Linked DNA regions of Homo sapiens: region 1 is linked to region 2. The links come from fine-mapping of genetic effects on gene expression. A gene starts in region 2. The other region holds a variant in brackets. All regions are shown on one strand. Distances are between the middles of the regions. Region 1 overlaps EFHC2 (EF-hand domain containing 2). Region 2 holds the start of EFHC2 (EF-hand domain containing 2).

Region 1 (4,529 bases), 33 kb before region 2:
GAGACTTTGTCTCAAAAAAAAAAAAAAATTTTGTTTCGTTCTGAAATTAATATTTGAATGGAAACTGTATGAATAACTCATGGTTTCCTACTGAAGTTTAAGATTCCCCTAGATAATACTCAGATTTAGACAATGCTAGAATAAGACACTGGGTGATTATTTTAAAGTATGAACTACAGGTAAAATCTAAAAGGACATACATAATAAAAAATTTCTGATTTAAAAGACATAGTAAATATAAATGAATTAACTCACACAACGTACTTACACACAAACAAAACTAGAATAAACAACAACTTGTAGGAACCACCTCTAGTTGATTTCACCACTTAACAGGAGCAAGATCTTAGGTTGGTCATTTTGTTTAAGGATGACTTGAAGTTTTACAATACTACCTTAGCTCCCACATATAAGTGCTTTTAAAGCATTATCTCATTTAATTTAATCATAGCACATAAAAAAGACCTCAATAAAAAGAGACATATTCTTGTATTAAAAGAAAAAAAAAAGAAAAAAAAACTCTTCAATAGTTTTTTCTTATCAACTAGAAATTGGGGAAAATATAGTGAGAAATAAAATGGAACGGCTTCTCACACATATGAAGGCCCAGATCACGCCTAAATTTCTAGTGATTTAACTTAAGAAGCTCCTTGCCCTGAGAGATTCCTTTATCCCACAACACTCTACTCAGAGGGGGCAGAGAATCCCAGGACACTACCCAAGCCGCAGGATAAAAACACAACCTGTCTTCTATCTGGCACCAACAGACTAGTATCTATCTAAACACAGGACTGACTTTAAAGTTGGTTAACGAGTATTTTAATTCACTAAAATAAAACTTAGAAATTACATGCTTAGTCTACACAAGTTTAACTTACTTTAGTCACTTAGTGAATTGTGAATTGGCTCCCATTAGTGGTCAGGAGAATGCTTTGTATTTGGTGTAGAAACCAAATAAATCAAGCTATTATCGCCTTGTGAGTACAAACAATGTTTATTTGTTTGTAAAGTGCCAGTTTTATATTTAAGTAAACATTGAAATCTGCGCTGAAGCAGTGAGGCTGCATCTTTCAACTTTCAACTCCCTGTGCTGGTTAAATGACTGTTTAATCCTGCTGTGCCAAGCTCACTAGAGGGTCAACCCTCACTTTAAAGCCAAGACTGCCATTGTCACTGCTATAGTAAGTCACAGCCAGCCAGGCCTGCTGGCAAAAGGTGATACTACCAGCATTATAAATAAACAGGACTGGTTGTGAGGTAGCTACACAGTTTTAAAGATGCTGTTAATGAACATTATGGACAATTCATGGTGTGGCTAGTTGATAATACTTCAGCTGATTTTTTTTATGAGATGGAAAAAAATCAGCAAAATAAGGGCACATCTTCAGTTCATTTAGAAGTCAGCATTTAAGGTAAAAGAATTCTCTTTTGGACTTGACACCACTCCCATCCTCTGATACTCGCCTACTCTCCTCTCAAAGAAGTTAGTCTTTCAGTGAAATATTCTCCGTAAAGTCAAATGGGCTCTCTACTCCGAAAACCTTGCTAAAACCCAGTTCCAGCATAAGTCTGTCTGCCACAAACTCAATGTATTGCTTCATTAGAGTGCAATTCATCCCAATGAGCTTCACAGGCAAGGCCTCGGTGAGGAATTCTTGTTCTATCTGAACAGCATTGATAATTATTTCTCTCACTTTCTCCTCCGATGGTTTGTGTACCAGGTGTTTGAACATCAAGCAAGCAAAATCACAGTGTAAACCCTCTTCTCTGCTAATAAGTTCATTGGAAAACGTGAGGCCAGGCATCGGTCCTCGTTTCTTGAGCCAGAATATCGATGCAAAAGAACCAGAAAAGAAGATGCCTTCTACTGCAGCAAAGGCTACAACACGTTCACCATAGGTAGCCTCTTTGTCCCCAATCCAGCGCAAGGCCCAATCTGCCTTCTTCTTGACACAAGGCATCGTTCAATGGCATTGAAGAGAAATTCCCTTTCTTTGGGATCTTTGATGTAAGTGTCAATAAGGAGACTATACATTTCAGAATGTATGTTTTCCATGGCAATTTGGAAGCCATAGAAACAGCGGGCTTCTGTAATCTGAACTATTTGGCTAAATCGCTCCACCAAATTTTCATTTA[T/C]TATGCCATCACTTGCTGCAAAGAAAACCAGAACATGGGATATAAAATATCTCTCCTCGGGCTTCAGGGATTCCCAGTGCCGAATGTCCTTGGACAGGTCCACCTCCTCGGTGGTCCAGAAGGAAGCCTCCGCCTTCTCATACATCTGCCAGATATCATGGTACTCGATGGGGAAGATGACAAAGCGGCAAGGGTTTCCTCTCAGCAGCGGCTCATCCTCCACGCCGGGGGCAGCTGCTTTAGTTTTCGGCTCGCGGGCTCCTGGAAGATCCTCCATGCAGTCTTGCTGGCCAGAACCCGGGTCCCGCTCAGGGCCGGCGGCCTGTTCACCTTGTCGACCAGGCTGAGCCCCTTCAGCGGCGAGAGCTGCAGCTGCTGCGGGTCCGTAATGTGCAGCAGCGGGACGCGGACGGAGAGCATGGTGGTAGCGCGGCAAAGGAGAGTGAGGGGCCGGGACCGGGCGGCTGGGATGGGGTGCACTGAAAATGTCTCATTTTTAAGACAAATGATTAACAAGTGTTGACTTGTTTTTGTTGAACCGCTAATGTAGAAAGCGCTTTATAATTTGCTTGGGGTATTAACCAGGATCTAGTCTGTAGTTCACAGTCTCATCAGAGCACGTAAATATTTCAGTCTTAGTGTCTCATTTAAAGCTCAATGAATATTTAATAGAAGTTGACCAACAAAATAACTGAAAGAATTATGTTGCATTTAGTTAGCCCTGAAATGAGCAAGCTCTTCGTTTACTCAAGTAGTCTGAAGCTAAAATTATTCCAGATTCATGAAATATTCTACATAAGTAATTAAAGGCCTGCAAAATAGGCTTGAAAGGCACATATTAAATATTGAGAAAAACATGAAATGACTTTTCGACTTGAAATGCAAGAGAATAGTTTAATATTAATACATTGTGGCCTACGATACTTATTCAGTAGTGGATTAGTTTAAAATATTGTCGATACCCTCTATTTTACATGAGGTAAAAATAGAATCTTTTCTTTGGCCCATGCAAAGTAAACATCCTATAAGATTGAGAGTAACAGAAAACTATGCATAATCCACCCAAGTCAGTCAGCCCAGAATTGTTTTTGAGCTTTGGGTCCAGCACTGAGCCAGGTACTGAAAATAATCCAAGAAAAGAATATTGGCCCATGTTGAAAGGAGAAATGGTTTCCCAGGAAGGAAGCCTCCCTGTGGTCTGTTAGATCACTATAAGTGTCAGAACTAGGCTTCAAAAAAAAATGTGCACTCTAATTGATCTACCCTATCACAGATGACATGGGGATGTGTCAATTTGAGGACATTTTAATTAGAATCAAAGTACTGCCAACCAATCCATGTTAAAAGCTGCTAAAAACCACCTGGTAAACTTAGCATGCTATGGTTTCAATTCTTTATCTAGTCCTGAACTATCTTTCAATTACAGGATCTAAAATAATCTAATAACTAGTTCTTTCTGGAGAACAGAACATTGGGCTGTGATACAGGGCTATCTGATAAACACAGCATATCCATATAGCTGGTCGCCTTTTCTTTCCTCTGATCTTAGCCTTTTTAAAAAATATTCAAATACATTCCTTTTTCTAACTGCCAATATGTCCATATGTATATGTGTGTGTATGTGTATAGACATATACATTAAAAAATTCCAACTCTTGTCTAATAATGGCATCACTTCCTTTCACTATTCTTCTTGCCACATCACATTTTAGCCCTTAGGGATGGGGAATCATTACTACGGTTTATTACTAATTAGTATGGAGAAAAGAAGAGAAGGCATTTTTCTATTCCTATTTAAAGCCACATTCAGACTCAAACACAATTATTTAGTCAATGGCAACTCAAAAGCAAAAGTGACAATCTGACGAGACTCTTAGTTTCTATAGGACAGATTATCCTGTCCAGTGAAGGAGATGAGAGAAAGGTTAATAAGCATTAGCCAAGAAAGATAAACATTTGGCATTCTGCAACCAATGTGCCTGATAAAAAAGAGCAGAGCAAGAATGATTTTTCTTTGTTTAGGATACTTTTGTTCTTGAATTTATCTTTTCAGAAGAACTAACCTTAGTCAAAAGAAGCAAAATTTCACTTAGGAGGAATACGTTTAAGAGATCTATTGTATAACACAATGACTATAGCTAATAACAATGTATTGTATATTTGAAAATTGTAAGACAATAGTGTTTTCATCACAAAAAAAGAGAAGCACATGAGGTAACGCATATGTTAATTAGCTCAATTTAGCCATTCCATAGTGTATACATATTTCAAAACATCATGTTGTACACCATAAATATATACAATTATGTTTGTCAATTTAAACAAATAAAGACAAAGGGAGAAACACTAAAAATAAAACACTAAAAATAAAGGCAATAATAAGTAGAAAAGGC
Region 2 (4,000 bases):
ACAGAAAGGTTCATAGGTAGAGTTGTCACATAAAATACAAGATTCTCAGTTAAATTTGGTAAACAATAAATAATCCTTTCCCATAAACAGGTTCCATGCAGTATTTGAGATATGTATTTTTATTCGCTAAATCTGGCAACCCCAGTCAAGGGTGGTATTTTTGGAGAACAGGTCATATTTTATTTTATTTATTTTTTTGAGACAGGGTCTGGCTCTGTTGCCCAGGCTGGAGTGCAGTAATGCAATCATGGCTCACTGCAGCCTCGACCTCCCAGGCTCAAATGATTCTCCCACCTCAGCCTCCTGAGTAGCTGGGACTACAGGCATGTGCCACCACGCTTGGCTAATTTTTTCAATCTTTTGTAGAGATGAGGTCTTACTATATTGCCCAGGCTGGTCTCGAACTCCTGGGCTCAAGGGATCCTCCCATCTCTGCTTCCCAAAGTGCTGGGATTACAGGCGTGAGCCACTGCGCCCAGCCCCCATATTTAATTTCTTGATATTCATTTTGTGATCATCCATTGTGCATCTTTCTGTATATGTGTTGTACTTCATGATCTTAAAGTTTTTTAAAAAGCAAAAATATACGCAGAACCTTGCAGATTTATTAATATTTCATCCATCCACTGTTTTTCCTTCCCATCCTTAATCACTGCACGTGAGAGCTATGATACTTCTGCAGGAGGCAGGCACTGGTAATCAGAGTGTTGCTGGGCAAAAAGCTGTAGGCTTTACTTTCATTTTTTATTAAAATTACTTTTACACAGCATGCTTCTTTACTTCTGGAATCTGTTTTCATGTCCCGTCTCTCAGGGGCCTTTCTTGTTTGCGTGACTGGCTTAAACTTACCAAAGGGCAATGCTATGCTGGAAGGCCAGCCTCTGCCCATCAACCAAGAAATGCACAAATCAGTGTTCAAAGTTGGACTGACCAGACGTGTAGGGGTCAGAATTCAATGGCGTGAAGCTACAAAGAAAAAACTTGTACTTCAGGGCCAACAACTTAGATACAGACAGTGTTTGGAAACCATAAAGCCAAATACTTCAATCTGCTGCCTGCTTTCTAAAGTTATCAAAGGTTTACACAATTGCCTTGAGTGGCTCCATCTAATTCCCTCCCATCTAATTGGGAATTAGCTTCTCCTGCAGACACAGATGGCTGACCCAAGTGAAGGGTAGTAACCAGTATAAACAAAAGCCTGAATCATTTTCCTGCTGTCGTTTAAATGAGGTGCTATTTATTGGCAAAAGTTCTTTCATGCTCAGGGTTTTTTGTGTTGTGTTGCTTTGTTCTGTACGTTCATCTTCTTTTGAAATGAACCCCTCCAGGACAGGCGCAGTGGCTCAGCCTGTAATCCCAGCACTTTGGGAGACCGAGGCGGGCAGATCACTTGAGGTCAGGAGTCCGAGGCCAGCCTGGCCAACATGGTGAAACCCCATCTTTACTAAAAATACAAAAATTAGCCGGTGTGGTGGCGGGCGCCTGTAATCCCAGCTACTCGGGAGGCTGAGGCAGGAGAATCGCTTGAACCTGGGAGGTGGAGGTTGCAGTGAGCCGAGATCGGGTCACTGCACTCCAGCCTGGGCGACAGAGCGAGACTCCGTCTCAAAAAAAAAAAAAGAAATGAACCCCTCCCAATTATAAATAGAGAAAAAAAAAATCCCTCCAAGTTTGGGTGCCTGTCTCTATAAAGTTTGGGAGTAAACTTTACAGGCTGATAGAACTCTTATCTGCCACCTACCCCTCTTGATAAGTGCCAGATTTCTTCAATTTGATAATTGAAACGGTATCTTTTTTCACACAGGATACTGGGGATAATGATTAGGCTCCTGAGCTGTGGAGACAAGGTTGCTTGAAAGAAACCCAGCTTCACCACTGAGACTGTGTGGTTCTGTGCCTCAGTTTCCTCAATAGTAACTGGGAATAAAAACTACCTAATTCAAAGGGCTGTTGGGACACTGGATGCTGCATAAGGTGATTAAAGCACAGCGCCTGGCACACATTAAACCCCCAATGGTTATCGTCACTATTATTTGTTACCTTTGAGGGTCCTGCCACCTATAAGGACTCTCTCTATATATTTCTAAATTAGGAAAAACATTCAGATGCAGCTGGAGAGATGGGAGAAGCAGCCTATAAAGTTTGGTCCAAGTTGCCACCAACCCAGGGCAGCAGCATGGGGCCTCCAGGAGAGTCTGCGGAGGTGGCCACGCCACGACCCTGCCTGGACCCCAGACTCCAGCCGGGAGCTGTGACCTCGGACGCCCTTCCTACTCACGTTGCGGTTGAAGCTGTTGCCCGGCAGCAGAGGCAGGGCCATGGCGCTCAGTGTCCGAAAATCCAGGGTCCCAGAAGAGAGGGCCCGGCAGGCAGCGGCGCCTCCCGGCCGTGTTGTTTGGCCCCCACGTTGCCTGGAGACGGGAAGCGGCGTCACGGAGGGAGGAGGGGCGGGGGGTTGGCGAGAAGGATCGTGGGGGGCGGGGGACACCTCCGCGGCGCGTACCTCCTCCCCAGCCCCAGTTCCCCTCCACCCGCTTCATCCCCGCACACACTCAGCCAGGTCCTGGTCTCCTGAGGAGTCTTCTCTCTGCACACGCAGTGTGCACACACAAAGATTGACTGTTCCCTGCCCCCGCCGCTTTCTGGTTTAACCCCCTTATAGAACTCAAAGCCTTTCTTGTACTTTCTTGCTTTTCCAATTCTTGTCGCCAACAGTTTTTTGCTATGTGGTTCAAACACACAGCAAAGTACAGAAAGTAATATGACGCCCGTGTGCTCACTGAGATGTTACACAAGTCGATATTTTCCTATGTTGCATAGACATCAGCTTTTATTTTGTAATTAAAACGTTCAAGATGAATCTAAAGCCACATATACCCTGACGAAAACGCGTTGTAATGGTAACCACCGCCTTCAGTTTTTCTTCTGGATATTTTTATATTTGTTGTTTGTTTGTTTGTTTGTTGTTTTAAGACAAGGTCTCACTATGTTGCCCAGGCCGATCTCGAACTCCTGGGCTCAAGCAGCCCTCCCGCCTCTGCCTCCCAAAGTGCTGGGATTACAGGTATGAGCCACCGTGTCCGGCCCATTTTTGTATTTGAACTAAACGTTTGTAAGGCCCAATCAGGGGTGGCCGGGGCGGAGTCAGGTGTCACAAATCGCAACCCCTGTCACTCCATCGTTCACCCCAAGATAGCCGGGCCAGGAACCTCCTCTCCCGACACCTACGTCTAATCCCTCCCTGAAGCCCTAAAGGTTGGACTCGATGCTCTCTCTCAGTCACCACCTCGTCTATTTCAGCTGCGATCCCATTGTTTCTTGCCTGGTTTTCTTCTTTAAAAAGAAAAACAAACACACACAAAAAACTAACTGATCTTGCCTCCAGAGCCGTCGTTTTTATAATTCATGGTGCAGCTGTTACTCTTCTGCTTCAATAATCTAGCCTTCCCGCCGCCTTCAGAAGGTGGTGAAACTCCTTATAGCCTGGTCTGAGGAGCTTTTGTCAGAGGGCACCTACCAATGCCCTCCATCCCTTTCTTTGCCCCCTCCTCCATCTACTCCAGCTCTGAGAAACCACTGGCAGTTTCTAAATCAGGCTCTGCGGTTTCTCCTCTTGGGGCTTTTGCAAATAACACTATCGTCTAGAAACACCCTTCCTTCCTATCTTTCACATAAGTAACCCCTTCTTGTCTTTCAGGACTTGAGGCCAGCGTGGGAGTGGGGCATAGAAGGTATTGCCATTTCTTCAATATATTCTTTCACCTTCTTCCTGCCGCCTCCATCTGTATTTGGTGTCTATTCTGATCGTGGCTTTCATCCTACTACATTGTAATTACCTGTTTACTTGACATTTCTTTAAATGCCCCCAAATACCTCCAGGGCAGGGACTGTATCTCCTTTTTTATTCATCAACAATATCCATTATTGCTTCTGTGTTTATAAATTTTACACTCTAAATTTCTGCTACTTGCTTTTTTTGCCTGATTCTGTTATTGAGGCC

Evidence for each region. PIP is the estimated chance that this variant, and not a neighbour inherited with it, causes the effect.
Region 1: its variant is the best candidate, but not a certain one, in a credible set for the expression of EFHC2 in blood mononuclear cells (TOPMed, PIP 0.82).

Annotation. Positions count from the first base shown.
Region 1 is chrX:44,307,921-44,312,449 of GRCh38, forward strand. The region is part of intron 2 of EFHC2 (EF-hand domain containing 2); the gene reads right to left. It also overlaps the pseudogene RRM2P3. Among named protein-coding and RNA genes, the nearest start is that of EFHC2, 33 kb to the right of the region's middle. The variant T/C (reference allele first, on the strand shown) is at 2,137.
Region 2 is chrX:44,341,269-44,345,268 of GRCh38, forward strand. EFHC2 (EF-hand domain containing 2) reads right to left here and starts at 2,404. Exons shown (of 15, transcript NM_025184.4): 1 at 2,279-2,404. The coding sequence starts at 2,320.